4 linked regions of the Homo sapiens genome follow. The protein of the gene in region 1 purifies or fractionates together with the protein of each later gene. This does not show direct contact. Each region holds a gene or a part of one and is shown in the gene's direction. Other genes may lie near its edges.

Evidence for each region. Proteins that work in one complex are often made in the same cells at the same time.
Region 2: the proteins of FSD1 (region 1) and ARPIN purify together in Homo sapiens (affinity purification with mass spectrometry; 3 studies listed by BioGRID and IntAct, with this or other methods). This does not show direct contact.
Region 3: the proteins of FSD1 (region 1) and PAK2 purify together in Homo sapiens (affinity purification with mass spectrometry; 3 studies listed by BioGRID and IntAct, with this or other methods). This does not show direct contact.
Region 4: the proteins of FSD1 (region 1) and AIDA purify together in Homo sapiens (affinity purification with mass spectrometry; 3 studies listed by BioGRID and IntAct, with this or other methods). This does not show direct contact.

Annotation. Positions count from the first base shown.
Region 1 is NC_000019.10:4,320,993-4,325,496, forward strand, and holds the end of FSD1 (fibronectin type III and SPRY domain-containing protein 1), read left to right. Parts: intron 1-1,993; coding exon 1,994-2,245; intron 2,246-2,355; coding exon 2,356-2,444; intron 2,445-2,540; coding exon 2,541-2,651; 3' UTR 2,652-2,844; downstream 2,845-4,504. Other genes in the region: STAP2 (signal-transducing adaptor protein 2), read right to left, coding at 3,141-3,205, 3,463-3,675, 4,224-4,316, 4,404-4,504. UniProt on the Homo sapiens protein: May be involved in microtubule organization and stabilization.
Region 2 is NC_000015.10:89,898,716-89,903,980, reverse strand, and holds part of ARPIN (arpin), read left to right. Parts: coding exon 1-204; intron 205-601; coding exon 602-765; intron 766-2,177; coding exon 2,178-2,186; 3' UTR 2,187-5,265. Other genes in the region: ARPIN-AP3S2 (uncharacterized protein LOC100526783), read left to right, coding at 1-204, 602-765. UniProt on the Homo sapiens protein: Regulates actin polymerization by inhibiting the actin-nucleating activity of the Arp2/3 complex; the function is competitive with nucleation promoting factors.
Region 3 is NC_000003.12:196,828,974-196,833,884, forward strand, and holds the end of PAK2 (serine/threonine-protein kinase PAK 2), read left to right. Parts: 3' UTR 1-3,674; downstream 3,675-4,911. UniProt on the Homo sapiens protein: Serine/threonine protein kinase that plays a role in a variety of different signaling pathways including cytoskeleton regulation, cell motility, cell cycle progression, apoptosis or proliferation.
Region 4 is NC_000001.11:222,670,266-222,675,519, reverse strand, and holds part of AIDA (axin interactor, dorsalization-associated protein), read left to right. Parts: intron 1-2,084; coding exon 2,085-2,207; intron 2,208-5,254. UniProt on the Homo sapiens protein: Acts as a ventralizing factor during embryogenesis. Inhibits axin-mediated JNK activation by binding axin and disrupting axin homodimerization. This in turn antagonizes a Wnt/beta-catenin-independent dorsalization pathway activated by AXIN/JNK-signaling.

The DNA of each region.
Region 1 (4,504 bases):
TGAGGAGTATCTGGAGGGGAATAGCTGGGACTGAGGAGTATCTGGAGGGGAATCGCTGGGACTGGGGAGTATCTGGAGGGAAATAGCTGAGACTGAGGAGTATCTGGGGAAATAGCTGGGACTGAGGAGTACCTGGAGGGGAATAGCTGGGACTGAGGAGTATCTGGGGGGAATAGCTGGGACCTGAGGAGCATCTGGAGGGAATAACTGCAGCCTGAGGAGTATCTGGGGGGAATAGCTGGGACTGAGGAGTATCTGGGGGAAACAGCTGGGACTGAGGAGTATCTGGAGGGGAATAGCTGGGACTGAGGAGTATCTGTGGAAATAGCTGGGACTGAGGAGTATCTGGAGGGGAATAGCTGGGACTGAGGAGTATCTGGGGAAATAGCTGGGACTGAGGAGTATCTGGAGGGGAATAGCTGGGACTGAGGAGTATCTGTGGAAATAGCTGGGACTGAGGAGTATCTGGAGGGGAATAGCTGGGACTGAGGAGTATCTGGGGAAATAGCTGGGACTGAGGAGTATCTGGGGGGAATAGCTGGGACTGAGAAGTATCTGGGGGAAATAGCTGGATCCCCGAGGAGTATCTGGGAGGAATGGCTCAAGCCAGAGAAGTATCTGGAGGGACTAGCAGAGACTGAGGCATATCTGAAGGGAATTACTGGGGCCCAAGGAGTATCTGGAGGGAATAGCTGGGACCCAAGTATTTGGAGGGAATAACTGGAGTCCAAGGAGTATCTGGGGGGAAATAGCTGGGGCCCAAGGAGTATCTGAGGGGAATAGCTGGGACCCTGAGGAGTATCTGGGAGGAATAACTTGGATCCCGAGGAGTATCTGGGGGAAATAGCTGGGTCCCCAAGGAGTATCTGGGAGAAATAGCTGGGTCCTCAAGGATTATCTGGGAAGAATAGCTGGGATCCTGAGGAATATCTGGGGGGAATAGCTGGGTCCCCAAGAAGTATCTGGCGGGGGGATAGCTGGGATCCCGAGGAGTATCTGGGAGGAATAACTTGGACCCCAAGGAGTATCTGGGAGAATTACCTGGGGCCCAAGGAGTATCTGAGAGGAACAGCTGGGTCCTCAAGGATTATCGGGGGGAATAGCTGGGATCCTGAGGAATATCTGGGGGGAATAGCTGGGTCCCCAAGAAGTATCTGGAGGGGATAGCTGGGATCCCGAGGAGTATCTGGGAGGGATAACTTGGACCTCAAGGAGTATCTGGGAGAATTAGCTGGGGCCCAAGGAGTATCTGAGAGGAACAGCTGGGTCCTCAATGATTATCTGGGGGGAATAGCTGGGATCCTGAGGAGTATCTGGGGGGGCGGATAGCTGGGTCCCCAAGAAGTATCTGGAGGGGATAGCTGGGATCCCGAGGAGTATCTGGGAGGAATAGCTGGAGCCCAAGGAGTATCTGGAGGGAATAGCAGGAACCAAGGAGTATCTGGAGGGAATAGCAGGAACCGAGGAGTATCTGGAGGGAATAGCAGGAACCGAGGAGTATCTGGAGGATATAGCAGGAACCGAGGAGTATCTGGAGGGAATAGCTGGGTCCGAAGGAGTATCTGGAGGGAATAGCTGGGGCCCAAGGAGTATCTGGAGGGAATAGCTGTGGCCCAAGGTGTATCTGGAGGGAATAGCTGGGGCCCAAGGAGTATCTGGAGGGAATAGCTGGGGCCCAAGGAGTATCTGGGGGGAATAGCTGCGGCCCAAGGAGTATCTGGAGGGAATAGCTGGGGCCCAAGGAGTATCTGGAGGGAATAGCTAGGAACTTGAGGCGTATCTGAAGGGAATAGCTGGGGTTCAAGGGGTACCTGAGGGGAATAGCTGGGAACCTGAGGAGTATCTGGGGGGTACAGCTAGGAACCTGGGGAGTGTCTCTGCAGGGAGCAGCTGTGGTGTAAGGAGCACCTTGGGGGCTGGCCCTTTGTGGAAGGGCATCTGTGGCCCAGTTCTATCCAGTTCCCCTGCCCACCCCTCCTGCCCTGCGCCACAGGGGACACGCTGATCGACGGCGGGGAGCATTACTGGGAGGTGCGCTACGAGCCGGACAGCAAGGCGTTCGGCGTGGGCGTGGCCTACCGCAGCCTGGGCCGCTTCGAGCAACTGGGCAAGACGGCCGCCTCCTGGTGCCTGCACGTCAACAATTGGCTGCAGGTCAGCTTCACGGCCAAGCACGCCAACAAGGTCAAGGTGCTGGACGCCCCCGTGCCCGACTGCCTGGGTGTGCACTGTGACTTCCACCAAGGTGACCCCAAGCCCCAGCTGCCGTCTCTGGCTGCCCCTGCCTGAGTCCCCTCCGTCTGCCCCCATCCCACTTCTGACCGGTCCCACTGTCACTCTGCCCCCCGACCCCAGGCCTCCTGTCCTTCTACAATGCCCGCACCAAACAAGTGCTGCACACTTTCAAGACCAGGTTCACACAGCCGCTGCTGCCTGCTTTCACGGTGAGCTGCCCTCCGCGGCCCAGGGGGAGGAGAGGGTGGTGCTGGGCGCTGGGGTTTGAAGCTGAGCCCCTCCCCCCTCCCCCCGCTGTCCCTCAGGTATGGTGTGGCAGCTTCCAGGTGACGACAGGCCTGCAGGTCCCCAGTGCTGTGCGCTGCCTGCAAAAGCGAGGCAGTGCTACCAGCAGCTCCAACACCAGCCTCACCTAGGCCCCCAGGCACCCACCCAGCTGGGGTGTTTTTGGGGGAGTCGCCGCCAAGCCCAGGCTGCTGGAGCCAGGCACCCTCCTCTGTCACTTGCTGCTTGGAGCCTTAACTCCAGATGGGGGGGTCACCAAGAGGGAGTGGGCACCCTGGCGGGCCCTCTCCCCACCTCACCTCTTAATAAAGGTCAGACACTGGCCAGGCGAGGCCGCGGTGCTGGTTCTTTGGGCCTGGGTGTGGCACCGGGACCTCATCCTTCCCAGCTGTAAAATGGGCTTTTCTCACAGAATATGGTGGTAGATTTCACTGAGCTGAGGGTCACTGGGAGTAAATGGGGCCATCCGTAGGCAGACATCTGACGGACCCCTCGTCCCCTAATCCCCCAAGCCAAGCCAGACACATGGGTCCTGGGGTCAGAGTTTTAATCCTGGGAAAAAGAATCTGGCCGCTGGGCCATGCCCTGGGACTAGCCCGCTGGTCCCTGGTGTGTCCGAATCAGTGCTCCAGTGCCCGCCTCTTCTCCAGCTTCTTCTGTAGCTCTGCCGTCATGTCTGCCAGCCCTGGGGGTTCAGGACCAGGAGCTGCAGCTGGCTCAGGGATCCCCAGTCCATGCCCACCGCCCTGACAGCCACCCAGGACCAGCTACAGATTTGCAGGGCCCCGTGCAACAGGACAGTGTGCTCGAAGGCATTAAGAATTTCAAGACAGAGACAGCAGAACCTTAAAAGACAGGGCGCTTCGGAGTGTGGGGACTTGTGTGACTGTACGGTCACACACCTGGGAAGCCCGCCCCGCACTGACCCCGCAGACCCCTTACCGGCTGTGGGGAAGAGAGGCTGGGCTGAACTGACTGGCAGCTTCCTGCCCAAGCCACCATTAAAGACTTTGGGCTCTGGAAGAGAAGACAGATGAGGCCAGGTGTGGTGGCTCACGCCGGTAATCCCAGCACTTTGGGAGGCTGAGGTGGGTGGATCACTTGAGGTCAGGAGTTCGAGACCAGCCTGGGCAACATGGTGAAACCCCTTCTCTACTAAAAATACAAAAATTAGATGGACGTGGTGGCAGGTGCCTGTAATCCCAGCTACTTGGGAGGCTGAGGCAGGAGAATCACTTGAACCCGGCAGACAGAGGTTGCAGTGAGCTGAGATCGCGCCACTGCCTGGGCAACAGAGTGAGACTCCATCTCAAAACAAAAAACAACAATAAAGACAGATGAGCTGGGTGCGGTGGCTCACGCCTGTAATCCCAGCACTTTGGGAGGCCGAGGTGGGCGGATCACGAGGTCAGGAGATCAAGACCATCCTGGCTAACATGGTGAAACCCCGTCTCTACTAAAAATACAAAAAAAAAAATTAGCTGGGCATGGTGGCGGGCACCTGTAGTCCCAGCTACTGGAGAGGCTGAGGCAGGAGAATGGCGTGAACCCAGGAGGCGGAGCTTGCAGTGAGCCAAGGTTGTGCCACTGCACTCCAGCCTGGGCGACAGAGTGAGACTGTCTCAAAAAAAAAAAAAAAAGTCAGATGAGGGCTGAGGCTGGCCTGCCATCAGGTGAGGGTGGGATATGGGGGGGACCCCAACCTGGCTTGGGTCCAACGGGTGGCTTTGGAAGCTTGGCAGGAGGCTTTGGCAACTTCTTTGGCTTCAGGATGACTGGCCAACTAGAGGAAGCCACTGCGTGGACAAAAGTGTAACGTGTCACATCAGCTGTTAACCTGTTTCCCCAACCCCCAGCTCTCAGCAGCTCTGTTCCCCACCCACCATCTTGGTTCTCATAGTCAACAGCTGGGCCATCTCCAATGGGGGTCACGTAGTTCTCTTCCTGGTTCGGTAGTGGGGGCAGTGGGGGCAGCTTGTCCTGG
Region 2 (5,265 bases), on another chromosome or scaffold:
TGGAAGCCAAGGGGGACACTGACAGGCTCACGCCCGAGGCGCTGAAGGGGCTGGTCAACAAGCCAGAGCTGCTCGCGCTGACAGAGAGCCTCACCCCCGACCACACAGTGGCGTTCTGGATGCCCGAGTCAGAGATGGAGGTGATGGAACTCGAGCTGGGGGCCGGGGTACGGCTGAAGACTCGGGGCGATGGTCCCTTCCTGGGTGAGCAATGCAACCCTCACTGTGGCCCACTGTTCCTGTGTGGCCCATGGGGGCTCTTGGCCTCCCTTCTGCCTAGAGCTCATGGGAGCAGGCAAGGGCTGGCCTCCATGGGGACACGACCAAGCCCTTGAGATTTACTCCTAAATCCCTGCACAAGTGCCCTAGGGCCATTGGGCTCGACAGCCTGGATCCCCGGGTGCCACCCAATCCCATGGTTCCTGTGAGCGACTCTCCCACCATACCTTGGGGGTCCCACCCAGGGGCTCATTGACCACATCTATGCCTGGAGAAAACAGTGGTTTAACCCAGGCCTAGGGGACCCCACCATAATGGGCCCAGCCCTCACTATGTTTCTGCCACAGGGACAGAGGACATTCAATTTCATCTCTTCTTTCAGATTCATTGGCCAAACTTGAGGCTGGAACAGTGACCAAGTGTAATTTCACTGGTGATGGAAAGACAGGGGCATCCTGGACAGACAACATCATGGCCCAAAAGTGTTCGAAGGGGGCTGCAGCGGAGATCCGAGAGCAGGGGGATGGGGCAGAGGACGAGGAGTGGGTAGGTACCTGGTGTTGGTGCAGTTGTATCTCCTGGCAGGAGCATGGTACATACTGGTTGAGGTTGTGGGTAGGATGAGAAGACGACAGGATGAATCTTACCCCCCAGCTTTAGTGGAATTCTGTGAAACACCTGGGAATGTGTTAGCATCAGGAGAATTCCTCTAAGGTATGAAGAATGACAACCTGGGACCTTTCTTGTAGGTGGCTCTGAACCTAACTATTCCCCAAAGATTCCCAAGTGGTAGGAAGGAGGGGGTGCAGAGGGATATTAATCATGGTCATTAAGTCTCAAAACATTTCTACTTCAAGTGAATACATTAACCATGCTGAGGCAGTTGAACAACTGAATGCGTAGTTTTTCCTCCTTTGGTTTGGGCTCCTTGCCTGAAGTGTCTGGAGAATGGCTGACCTGGTCCTTACTGGTTTTTCTTTTGATGAGAGTCAGTCCCCACGTTGATCCTCAGCCTATTCACAGTTGCTTTTCTTTTCATTTCTTTTCTCTTTTTTTGGGAGATGGAGTCTCATTCTGTTGCCCAGGCTGGAGTGCAGGGGCACGATCATGGCTCACTGCAGCCTCGAACTCCTGGGCTCAAATGATCCTCCCACCTCAGCCTCCCAAGTAGCTGGGACTATAGGCATGCATCACCACGCCTGGCTAATTTTTTTATTTTTTGTAGAGACGAGGTTTTGCCATGTTGCCCAGGTTCACAGTTGTTTTTCTGAAGTATATTTTACCCAAAGACTTGAATTGATGTCATAAGGCCCCAAAATGAACATTTATTATTTTATTTTATTTTATTTTTTTGAGACGGAGTTTCACTCTTATTGCCCAGGCTGGAGTGCAATGGCGCCATCTCAGGTCACTGCAACCTTTGCCTCCCGGGTTCAAGCAATTCTCCTGCCTCAGCCTCCCAAAGTGCTGGGATTACAGGCATGCGCCACCATGCCTGGCTAATTTTGTATTTTTAGTAGAGACGAGGTTTCTCCATGTTGGGCTGGTTGGTCTCGAATTCCCGACCTCGGGTGATCCACCTGCCTCAGGCTCCCAAAGTGCTGGGATTACGGGCTTGAGCCACCACACCTGGCCTCAAAATGAACATCTGAAGCAACGAAGTCACAGAAAAATGCACTATTTATCTAGGTAATGGAGATGATGTCTTTTGCCAGAGAAAGCAGGCGCACGCAGATGAGAGTGTCTGGATTCCTTTTTGTCTTCATAAAGCGAATCTTGGACTGAAAAACAGTCCAAGAGCTGTTGGAGCTGCCGGGCCAGCTCTAATGAGGCGCCCAGGCAAGCACTCATGGGCCCCACAGGTACCACGCAATTGAACCCTTGTTTGTCTGATAACTTGCAGTGACGTTTATGACATGTGCTGTCTCCACATCTCTTTACCCCTTGGATTTCTCTAGGATGACTGAGGGACGTGGCTGCCTCTGGGGGCACCAGCACCTTCTGTAGCATTGTGGAACATTTCTTCCATGAACTTCTACTCTGGAGCTGGAGAGAACAGTCTGCCAAGTCTTACCTGGTTCTTCCCCATAGCCACCTTGGAATACTCTTTGAACAAGCTCTGCTAAAACCAAACCCATGACCACTGTGTTGGTGGTGGGGCCTCATGCTGTGGCTCAGGGAGGGCCCCTCCCTGCATGTGAGTCTAGCCTTCCTAGACATTACATGATGACCCTTTAAAAAAAAATTAGAGATGGAGGTCTCACTATGTTGCCCAGGCTGATCTCAAACTCCTGGACTCAAGCGATCCACCCCCCTCCACCTCCCAAGGTGTTGGGATTACAGGCGTGAGCCACTGCACCCAGCCTCATGTTGACCCTGGCCCTGGATAGCAGCTTTGTTTGTAGAGGCAGGTGGTGGGAGAGACCCTAGGACAGCCTGAGAGTAACTGGACCTGGTATTGGTGCGGAGTGGGGAATATCCCTTGTCTAAATGCAGAGCAGCTGAGAGAAGTTAGCGGGGCTCTTCCTCCGTTCTCATTGTTTCCTGCTTTCCTTCCCCACCCACCCCTTCCTCAGCACTCTGTGTTGTAGCCTGTACTATCCTGCTTCAAGCCTCCGTGTCCCTTGTACCTTCCCCCTACCTTGAGTTGCCAGTTCTTTACTCCCTCAAATGTTCCCATGCCACCTCTGGGGTTTCTGTTATCTGACATCCCTGGCTGCTTTCCTGGTAGATGCCATTCCCAGAGAGGCCAACAGCGTTCCCAGGCGTGGCTGGCTGGTCCGCATCTCTCAGACTCACTCTGCCAGGCTACAGTTTTGAGAATACCTTTTTTGTTGTTGTTTTGTACCTGGAGAACTTTTTATGAATGAGTAAATCTTCAGAAAGGAATTCCTCCACCCTTACTGGGTTATTGTCAGGTGTAAACGGCCTTTCAGCTGAGCAATGTTCCTATGAGAAGGAAGCCATTTCTCTTGGCTCATGAACACTGCCTTTTGGGTAGTATACCCACACCCAGATCTGTGAAGAGACCTGGAATTGAAGTCTCCATGTCGTCAGGACTTGGTGGCATGTGGATCTTGCTTGACTTGGGAAAAGAGAGGGTGGTGGTGAACTAATAATTATGGAGTCCCCCTAATGTGTCGAACACAATGCTAGATGATTTCCATGATAATAATTACTCATACTTGTGCTAAGCACTTGCGATATCGTACTTCTCACAACAGTCCATGAGGTACTGATTATTATTCCCATTTTCTCATGAGACTAAAGCTCAGAGCTCTAGGATAGTATACAGTGGCAAGAGGAATTTACATCCAAGCACTCAGATTTCAAAGCCCACATTCTTAACTACCGGACTATTCATATTACAGAGCAGGAAAAGGGTCTCAGACAGGTTAAGCAACCTGCCCAGAGTCACACAGCTAATGAGTAGCAGAATCAGGATTCAAACCCAGAGCTGTCAAAAGCAAACCTTATGTTCCTTCCACTGTCCCCTGCTTCCTTGCCCTTCAGAAAGGTCTTGGAAACAGGGGCCAGAGGATGTGGTAGCCACTTCACTGGTGTTCTGTGTCTGAATGGGACTTTCTCACAGGCAGGCCATGCTGGGACCTCAGCCATGGGGGTGGCCAGGGAGGTGGTTGAGCAGAAGGATAGCTGGGGACACTGACTGGGGGTAGAGTCACCCAGTGTCTTTAGACATCCTGCTGTCTAAAGCACTGTGTCCAAAGGGTATGGCACACTTATATGGACAGGTCACCATTCCAAACAAGGAGGCCCAGTGTGTCAATAGGAGAGGTCCTAAAGCAACAAAAAGGGCGGGGTGTCTTGGATGGGCTTCAGGAAGGGAAAGACCATTGTGTCTGGAGCTCAGAGAATGGGGGCTGGTGTTTGAGATGAGGCTGGAGATTGGGCATGGCATCCTCACGCATGTTAAGGAATTGGGGACTTTATCCTTAACATCCTGGAAGCCAGTGATCCCATGGAGAGTGAGAAGATCTGATCTGTGTTTCAAAGGTCACTTGACTGCCGAGCAGCTGGAGGCGAGTTGCTCCTTTAGGAGACTGCTGCAGTTGCCTGGGTGAGAGGCTAGAGGGGTCTGGTCTATAGCAGTGGCAGGGGAGATGGAAAGAAGAGAATGATTTGAGGGGCATTCGGGGGGCAAAATCAACAGGACCTGGGGGGAGACGAAGGGATCAAGAATGATGCCCAGATTCTGGGTGAGTGGCAGTGCTGTGGTGCACAAGTAGTGATGTTATGTTTCCGGGTGACCTGCTGTTTAGCAGGAGCCCAGCCTGTGGCTAAGAAGTATAGAGAACTGAAACTAGCTCCCTAGGGATGGGAAAACCAAGTGGGCTGAGGATAAGAACAGGGCCCCAGGGCTGGGTGCAGTCGCTCACGCCTGTAATCTTAGCACTTTGGGAGGCCGAGGTGGGCGGATCACTTGAGGTCAGGAGTTCGAAACCAGCCTGATCAACACAGTGAAACCCCGTCTCTACCAAAAAATACAAAAATTACCCGGACATGGTGGCACATGCCTGTAGTTCCAGCGCCTTGGGAGGCTGAGGCATGAGAATTTCTTGAACCCGGGAGGTGGAGGTTGCAGTGAGCTGAGATTGCCACTGCACTCCAGCCTGGGCAACACAGTGAGACCCTGTCTCAAAAAAAAAAAAAAAAAAAAGAATAGGGTCCCAGGCTCAGCAGGTAGGGACACTGAGGTAAAATCCTATTCCCTAGGACTAGGGACTAGGAAGGGAGAAAATAGGAAGCTGCTGTGGCATAGGCATCTGCATGGGCAGATGGTGAGGCCAAAGCCCCTGATTTTGCCATACCTCCTGCCCTGGTCAGGACTGGTTCAGGCATTAGGGCAGGCCCAGCCAGGGCAGAAGCCTTCCTAGATACACCTGTGGGGAGTTGAGGAACTACAGCAGGGCTGAAACCCTGCTTTCAGGGGCCCCCATGTGGCTGGTAGGGGCAGCTTTTGGAAGCTAGACTGGATCCTATTACTCCCCAGATGAAAAGTTCAAATTCCTTAATACAACTCAGAGC
Region 3 (4,911 bases), on another chromosome or scaffold:
TGTAATATTTTAGTTCAGAACTTGACCTGAAGGAAGGGAAGAAAAGTATGTGATTTTTACCTTTTTTAACAAATGTGAAAAAGTCAGTTTTAGAAATTTCGTGGTAGTAAGTTCGGCATTTGTTACATGTATAGAGAGAAGACTAATAATCTCTATTTATAACTAAATCATTGAGATAGAAAAAGATTCCCATTGACTGTAGACTTCTTCCCATTTTGTCTTCCCTTCTGCCTGTTTCCCCTTCAGGCTTGGCTCTAGGAACCAAAGTGATTTGTTGTTGTTCCAACCTGGGCTTTGTGACTTTGGTTAGTGCCACTACCTTCTTCCCTCCTTTCCCCCTTCAATTTGGAAATAAATTTCTGTATATGTTGCAATTTTAGGTTTAGGTTTGTTCTTTTTCTTTTTCATTAATCCTCTCTCACCTCACAGATACCCCCTCCCATGGCAAATAATATAATAACCAGTGAATTTTCAGGAATTTAAAAATTAGCTTTTTTCCACTTAAAGGAGAAAAATATTTGGGACTAGCAGCAGAGGCAGTAAGAGATGTGAACCTTGGTGAGCTCTGATACAGTGAGAAGAGATTATACTCATGAAAGAGAATGTTAGTGTTACAGAGAAGCAGCCGATAGCAAATCGACTGTAGAGACTTGGCGGCGGTGGCATTGCCCCAGGTCGTCAGCAGTGTGGTATTATCTATGAGAACTTGAGCGACAGAGTATTTCTTGATGAATTTATAGATCATTTGAGATGTTGAGTTACTTTAGTTTAGTTTTGTTTTGTTTTTTCAAATAAGTAGAGACTATTGTAAAAAACGAGAAAGGAAAATGAAATGTGCGTGTTGATAGCAATAATTTGTTTCTTTTAAAGATTCTAAAAGGTCTGAGACCTGTAGCATTAATTATTTGAGTGCCCTCCCTTCTCCCCTCCCCTCCCTTTTCTCTTCTCTTTTTTCCTCTCCTCTTCTTCTCCTTTATTCATTGTTTTGCTTTTGGAGTGGGTGTTGTTCAAGTATCTGTGGTTTGGTTCTGGCATTTTGTTCCCACCATCCCCTTCCCCCATTAACTTCCCCCCTGCTTGCCATCCTGCAGTAGTATAAATCATGAATAAAAAATAATTTTGCTGTTGTAGTATACATTGGAGAAACTGGCAGGTTTTATTTCCATTATTTTATTTCCACTATATCTATGATAAGATGCAATTATAAGGAGAGAAGTGACTGTTTTTTATTGATAAGGCAAGATTTTCAGAAAAATGAGTAAAATAATTAATGAAACATATTTAGAGCACTTAATGGTCTCTGTTTTCAATATAATTCTTGATTTCATTTTTCTCTGGAATATATTGGCCTTCTACAGCTATTACTGAATTATAGAAACTGGTTTATTTCTGGCAGAAAGCTGCAGTGCCACCTGAGTTCCAAATTTTACCATTCTTTGTAAACAGTTGGATGGATTATGATAAAGAAGATGCTACCAATGAAATAGAAAACCAACGAGATGAGAAGACTGTGATCCTCATGTACTCAGAGGCACTTCCCTCCTAAGTCAAAGACCATCCTCACTGACTATGTGCCAACGCCTCGTTTCAGGCTTGTGACTCAACAAAGGGCTTTTCCATTGATAGAAGCAGTTTGGGATTTGTAGTTGCGACTTCTTCGATAGTTACCTGCACGTCCATTGCTGGCAACTGACTTGTCATTAAAACCTGGCTCTTTGGTTAAGGGAGCTACGCTGTGGTTTATTCTTAAGTTACGTGGATAAACTAACCTCTAACAGAAATATACTTTGGTTAATTTTGAAATGTGTCATTTTTAAACAATCTTAAAAGTAATACAGAATTGTGATTTATTAATTTTAAAACATTCAGAACTTGTTGAAAGAAAAATTATATCTGAATCAAGATTCATGTTTTTTATTTTTATTTTTTTTGATACAGAGTCTCACTCTGTCACTCAGGCTGGAGTGCAGTGACATGATCTCAGCTCACTGCAACCTCCGCTTCCTGGGTTCAAGCAATTCTCATGCCTCAGCCTCCTGAGTAGCTGAGACCACAGGCACCCGCCACCACACCCAGCTATTTTTTTGTATTTTTAGTAGAGACAGAGTCTCACCACATTGCCCAGGCTGGTCTCCAACTCCTGAGCTCAGGCAGTCTGCCCACCTTGGCCTCCCAAAGTGCTGCAGTTACAGGCGTGAGCCACTGCACCTGGCCTCATGTTTTTTAAATAATTGCCTTTTATATTTACCCTTTTTGTCATCACTTTAGAATGAAAATTCCCATTTAAATCTGAAAGTTACCTTAATAGTCCTCTTGTGTTATTAGGACAGTATTATTATAGTACTTATTTATTTTATTTTAGATTTAAAGTTATCTTCTCTTTTTCTTTTTTCTTCTGCTGCTTTTAGGGACAATTAAAACTGGGAAACTATGAAACATGGAACATTTTATCCTACCTGAAAGTAAACGAGTAATTGTGAAGCATAAGACACTGAGGCTAATACAACTCTGTCTTCATGTGTTGACTGCCTGGCACATAGTATTCATTCTCTTCCCTTTAACATAGAAGTGTCCAGCTGCGTACAGTCTAGTAACCAGCAACTGTAAACGAACCTGTGCCTCTAACAAGCGATTCTAAACCACCTATGAGTATTTCTTTTAGGGCTCACTTAAATACATGTTTGTATATACTGTATTCTAGCCAGAATAATTTTAGATCTGATCAGGTAGTAGCTAAAATTAGAAAAAAACAAAATAGATGCTTAAAGAATTTGCATCCATTTTTGAGTCTAAATCTTTTAAAATATACTGAGATCCACATCTAGTGAAATGTCAGTGTCAAAATATTATAGATTATAGCTAAAATCCAGATTAATACTCATTTGGGGTTTTTTATAGTGGAACTTCATAGTAATACAAAAAGCAGATTGTCTTCCTGTCTCCGCTGCTCCCACAGTAGGTATTGAAACTGGTAAAATCAGTTTTTTGATAGTGTGTGTATATAAGAAAAAATAGATACACACATTCTTTTTTCTCAGTCAACACATTGATTGAACACTCTGGCAAAGATGCTGTGGTGGATGAGGTTGGAGTTCGAAAGAAGAAGCAAGCGCTGGCCTGGCCTTGAAAGAACCGAAGTCTTTCCCATTCACTTCTCTAGAAAGCTGCCAAGACAGAGGCAGAAAGAAATGGATGATAGTTCTGTCAAGCACACTTCTGTTCTCTTAGAACTTAGAAGTGTTTCTAAGAGAACAGAAGTAATAAGAGAAACAGTTACGTGTGGAATTCAACATCTTTGGTTGGAACGCATTGGCTTTTTTTTTCTTGTTTTGATAGAAATGGAATTAAGCAAAAGTAGTTTTTGTCTTTTCTGTTGTCTTCAAATTTTATGCCTTTTATTTTTAATTTAATCCCGTTCAATTATTTAATTGTTATACATTGACATTAACTGCTGTATTTTGACTTTGTTCAATAATTTTGTTCTTTCAGGGCTAGAAATAAACTTTTTAAAAAAAGTGTGCATTTTTCCCTTTCCTAAACTTTTATTCTTTCTTTTGATCAGCGTAAAAGAATATTTTAATGTCTTTTGATAGCATAAAAGAATATTTAAATGTCTTAATAGGTTTTCAAAGAACATTTAGTATTTTTAGTGATAAATGTTTTAAACCTTTTAATGGTGTTGTGCCATCATTTTGAATTTATTACAAAGCTCCAAAGTAGGAAGGTTTCTAGAAATGTGTGGGCAGTAAACATGAAGTTTTCCTTTTTTTTTTTTTTTTTTTTTTTTTTGAGACAAGTCTCACTCTTTCTTCCAGGCTGGAGTGCAGTGGCGCCATCTCAGCTCACTGCAACCTCTGCCTCCCAGGTTCAAGTGATTCTCCTGCTTCGGCCTCCTGAGTAGTTAGGGGAAGTTTTCCCTTTCTAAATCAAGTTCAGAATAATTTTCTTTATCAATGTTTCTCTATCAGACCCAGGGAAACAGTTCTGATTTGAACACACACCTTGCTGGAGTAATAAAAACCTGATCAGAATTTCTGTGTTAAGTGAACCAAGAAACCTTTTAGAGTGCAATACGTCGTAAGGCATCACTTCATTATGTGAATTAATTTGGAATCTTAGGTACCCTAACATAGGGAACAGCCACAATAATGGTTTACTATCAAAAAGCATAAAATAAGGCCAGGCGTGGTGGCTCACACCTGTAATCCTAGCACTGGGAGGCTGAGACTGGCGGATTGCCTGAGCTCAGGCAGGAGACCAGCCTGGGCAACATGATGAAATCCCATCTCTACTAAAATACAAAAAAAAATCAGCCAGGTGTACTGGCACATGTCTGTAGTCCCAGCTACTTGGGAGGCTGAGGCACAAGAATTGTTTGAACCCGGGAGGTGAAGGTTGCAGTGAGACAAGATCATGCCATTGCACTCCAGCCTGGGTGACAGAGCAAGACTCCTGTCTCAAAAAGAAAAAAAAAAAAAAAAAAAAAAAAAAAAAAAAAAATATATATATATATATATATATTCTGGGTGAGAAGGGGAGGCAATGACTTTGAAATGTATTTGTTACACTATATGGCTGTTTCGTCTTGTTCTAACATTTATATTTCTTTGAACTAATAGCAAATGCTCAAAGCATTGCCTAAGAAAACTTTTAAAAGCCTGTGGTTAATTTCAGAAGCTCTATCTCTAGGGCTTGGCGGGAGGATGGCTCGAGCCTGGGAGGCAGAGGTTGCAGTGAGCCAAGATGGTGCCGCTGTACTCCAGCCTGGGTGACAGAGCAAGGCCCCTGTCTCAAAAAAAAAAGAGTTGGTAATTGCCTATATCTCTATAAAGAGAATTTTATAGTCTCAATAATCCTGATTATAGCTGTTTTACCCATACATCTTAGTTTGGGGTTAGGGAAAAAGACTAA
Region 4 (5,254 bases), on another chromosome or scaffold:
CTTATCCTTAACTATGTTACTGTGGTTAGGAAGCATGATTATTCTTAGGATTTGGTTTTTTTCTCCTATCCAGTGTGGCAGTTCATTTATTCCTTAAAAACAACATTTTCAGTCTTTCAAAGGGAAACCACATTGGTTGAATTCTTTTATTGTTGCCAAACATTTTATACAGTACTTTATTTATGAAGTAGTTAACAGTCTTTTAAAAATAATTATTGGGTGATTGAGAATGAAGTTGTCATACTCCTATCCAGAAACAACTGCACAGCTAATCCAAGTGGTTTACTTTAATCTGTAATTTGAGGCAAGTCAGAGAAACAGATAGGGGCTGAAATCAAATGAAGAGAACTTTTGTCAGTCATAGAAATAAATTCAGATTCAAAAGTTCATTAGTACCAATTAAAATAAAAAGGAATTCTGCCACAGAGAGGGATTATTTGGAGACCGTGATCCACAGCATTAATGCTGTGAAACTTTAACTTCTGATGTTATCAGGTATCAAATATATGGCCTACTGGAAAGTATATATACTCTACATTATAGTTTGATAGGTCATTTACAGAACTGCGTAACTCATGCAGGAATGTACACCAAAACAAAAAGATGTTTAATGATAGTGTAGTAACTGTTAAGTTACCTTTGCATACATGTTGAACTAAAACATGTTTTTGTAAATATCTTTAAGAACTGAAACAATCAATGTACTATATTGTTTTAAGTTCTCTAAGACAAATCTGTTGAATAATACATAAACACTTGAGTAGTCATTAAATGAGTCCATGTTGAATTTGATTAAACTGGAAGATTCCTGGGTCCAGGAAATTAAAACCATACACAATAACTTAGTGTTCTTTCTAGTTGGTATAAAACAGGTTGTTACAACAAATATAATGAGAATTTAGATAATATTTGTAAAAACGTATTCATTGATGGAAGGGTTTCATTGGCAATTTTCATGTCCATTTTTGGTCCTTTGACTTGAATACAGCAGGGGGATTCTGATAATGTTAGATTTAAAGGTCTTTCCAAACCATACACTTGATCAAGTTTGGAAATTAGGGGTAAGGTCCCATTGAGGCATATTATTTACATTCTAAGTTTTTATTGCAGACAAAAATATAGTGGCCTATCTCCTAAGGAAAACAAAAAGTTCTTTTCACTTCTTCCCTATAAAGATGAAATTTTGTGTTCTACAAGCTTTCTTTTGTACCTGATTGAGACAGGTTTCCTCCTTCCCACCGCGAAATCTCCCATCCCCTCACTCAGCCCCCTCCACATGCCTCTGTGGTCACCTGCAACTCTTCAGGTACCTGCTCACACCAAATGGGAATTTCTGTTAGCCCAAGAATTTCCTCTTACCTTTCTGCAAGCATCCTTATGAAATATACGCCCTGTAGTTGACAGGGTTTTTTTGTTTGTTTTTTGTTTTTTTGACACAGAGTTTCACTCTTACTGCCCAGGCTGGAGTGCAGTGGCGCGATCTTGGCTCACTGCAACCTCTGCCTCCCGGATTCAAGAGATTCTCCTGCCTCAGCCTCCCAAGTAGCTGGGATTACAGGTGTGCACCACCACGCCTGGCTAATTTTTTTTGTATTTTTAGTAGAGATGGGGTTTCCCCATGTTGGTCAGGCTAGTCTTGAACTCCTGACCTTAAGTGATCCACCCGCCTCAGCCTCCCAAAGTTCTGGGGTTACAGGTGTGAGCCACCGTGCCCTACCTAGTTTGCAGGTTTTTGTTTTTTTGAGACAGAGTCTAGCTCTTTTGCCCAGGCTGGAGTGCAGTGGTGCGATCTCGGCTCACTGCAAGCTCCGCCTCCTGGGTTCACGCCATTCTCCTGCCTGAGCCTCCCGAGTAGCTGGGACTATAGGCGCCCGCCACCACACCCGGCTAATTTTTTTTGTATTTTTAGTAGAGACGGGGTTTCACCATGTTAGCCAGGATGTTCTTGATCTCCTGACCTTGTCATCTGCCCGCCTCGGCCTCCCAAAGTGCTAGGATTACAGGCGTGAGCCACCGTGCCTGGCCTGCAGTTTTTAAGTCTGTATATTTGAATGTTCCTAAAGAGAAACTTCTTTTCTCTTTAGATCTGAATGGCATAGACTTAACTCCTGTGCAAGATACTCCTGTGGCTTCAAGAAAAGAAGATACATATGTTCATTTTAATGTGGACATTGAGCTCCAGAAGCATGTTGAAAAATTAACCAAAGGTTTGTAATCCTAAATAATACTTGGCTTCTTATGGACAGAATTCTCATCTTATTTGTGTTTGTACATATGGTGGACCTAGCATAGTTAGTATCTGGCAGAAGTAAATGTAACATAGTGTTTATTGATTTGAATAAATATACATATTTTTAAAATGTAGAAATTAGGAATTGTGTTATCTACTTGTCTAATAGCACTGTTATATAGTAAAACAATCTTTGATAATAAAATTTTATTGTCTTTACCAACAAAACAAAGTTTTTCACACACTAAAGGGCTGGGAGAAGCAGGAGTGCGTGAAGGTTCCCTGATGATTCAGTTTTCATCTTCAAATTAAGAACCAGGGTTTTCTCCCAGTATTTCTAGTTTGGTAGAACGATAACTTAACTTGCAGTTAATTGTTAGGAAATAGGAAAGGACAAAAGCAAATTTTTGAAATAGTGAGGCTACATTTCCAAGTATGATTCTTAGTATTAAATACTTCCCCATGCTTTTCGCCCAGTGGAAATTTGAGTGTTCTCCAAAAAGGTGACTTCAGAATCCCTTTATCACCTGAGGGTTCAGTTGCAGTTTCTGAAATGTTCAAGCTCTGTAGGATATTCAAGTCCCTTTTGAAGTGATTGCCTCGGCGTCTGAAATATTCGATATTTCACTTCTCAAGTCTGGTGCTGCTGCCTCCTCTGTTCCCCCACTAAAAGACCTTTCAGTGCTTCTGTTAGAACAGTGGTTCTCAGAGTATGATTCCTGGAACAGGAGCAGCACCTGGAGCCTTCTTAGGTGGCCACCCCAGACATCCTGAATCCGAAACCATGGGGATGGGCCTAGCAGTCTGTTTTAGGAAGCCCTCTAGGTGATTCTGACATACACCAAAGCTCCAGAGTCACTGTGTTAGAAGACTATGTATGTAGGAGGTGCTTAATAAATAACGTTGAAGAAATTTCAGTTACAAAGTATGTCTTCTGAACAAAACTATTGATTTGTTTCATTTCTTTAACTCCATTGCCTTAGGAAATGTTTGTGATGTGGACGGGAGAAGGTGGAGTGTTTCATGGGCTAACTTTTCTATTTTATTACACTGTGTTCTTTCTTAATGGCTCGACTCACTAGATAATAAAAGTAGAACTAGATTCAAAATTTGACTCTATTAATTTTTTCCAGCTTCAAACTTACTGTTTACTGTTACTGTAGTTTTAACTGATATTAGTGTTAATGACCATACTTTCATGTTTACAAACATTTTAACTTAATCTTCCCAGGATATTCCTGTTTCACATTTTGTTCTTTCTTATAAAAAGCATGATGAAGGATGCAGGAAATATATTATTTACAGGTGATACAGATTAATAATTTGTTTAACTTCCTCAAAATGATGGTAACATATTTGAACTTTAGTATTGTTTTGAAACGTGACTTTATCATTCACATTTATTCAGACCTCAAGACACGATCATGAGGAGGAGATGGGTTTCCTAGCAGAAAAGACTCTGCTGTCTTTAAAATCTTTGGTTTTCTAATGACAAAATGCCTCTGAGTGCTGTGGGAGGGAGAAGAGAAGCCACCATTTGTGGAAATGACAAGGTCACACACCTAGGGAAGAGATGTTACCAGTAACCTAACTATTGTAATCCTTTCGAGCGTGTTGGGAGTGGATGGCCAAATATGCCCATCTCTCCCTCACCCACATCCCATTGTCTCCTGAGCAATTGGTTTTTTTTTCCTCCCTTGCCATGTGATGTGGTCCATTTGGACCCAAGTGCCAATGCTGTACACACATTTCTGAACATTGCTAAACTTCTAGTGACTTGTGAGTTTTGTCATCAGCGGCAGTATTAAATGTATGTTGTCTTTGCAAGCCAAGCTCCTGGACTGCTCTGGTTAAGGCAGTATTTAGAAGTAGCTGGTGAAGAGTGAGACACTGACTTCCTTCACTTTCCATGCCTTCTTTAGAAATTCATTTTTGTTGGCCACATTGATGAGGCAACTTATTTCTCCATTTTTAGCTTTTTTCTGCAGGATTGGGGGAAGAGTTTATCTGTTGGACTTTGGGGACATAGGACCGTCTAAATTTCTTATTTTTTTCTTTTTTTGAGACAGAGTCTCACTTTGTCACACAGGCTGGGGCACAGTGGCATGATCATGGCTCACTGCAGCCTCAATCTCCCTGGGCTCAGGCAGTCCTACCAACTCAGCCTCCCGAGTAGCTGGGAGTACAGGCACGTGCCACCGAGCCTGGCTATTTTTAAAATTTTTTTTGTAGAGGTGGGGTCTTACCACCCCCTTGTTGCCCAGGCTGGTCTCAAACTCCTGGGCTCAAGTGATCTGCCCATCTCTGCCTCCCAAAGTGCTGGGATTACAGGCATGAGCCACCGCACCCGGCCAGAACTGTCTAAATTTCTCATTATCACTTGCTCATTGGAGGAGAGTGGCAGAATAAATAGATTTGCTCTTTGAACCTTTGTCTTCTACAGCACTGTCTTGACACAAACATGCAATTCCAGGAAAAACATCACAGCAGTGCTTTGAATACTGAAAAAGGTGTTAAGGAAACAGATAACATTTTCCAGCTGAGCCAGCATGTGATTTATGTTGTTTGAATTCCAAAATACCCCCAAGATTGAATTTTTGAGTTTTTGTTTTGGGGTAAGGGAAACAATTCGAGCTTAAATTTTTTTAGGAACTCTTTTAAATGCATTTTCTACCTAATGAGTCTCTATGTGTATTGAAGTATCTTCTCTGTTCTTCTGTGGCATTTCATATTTTATAGCAGCTTATGATTCTACCTGTGTACATAACTGTTATACATTCTTGAGGCAGTCTAGCTCAAGAAGTTTTGCTATAGTTTGTAGAATTGGATGATAAGGAGAAATGTCACTCTACTCAGATACAGAAGAGTTCGGGGTGACAACCATAGTAAGTTACTGTCAAATCATTGAGACTGGCACAAGTTGTTTTGTCAAATTATGCCAGCTGTAGCTGTTCATATGCTTCTGGTGATCAAAGAAAATTAATTGACACACAAGAAATGTGCTATCTGTGGTTTATGTGGCTT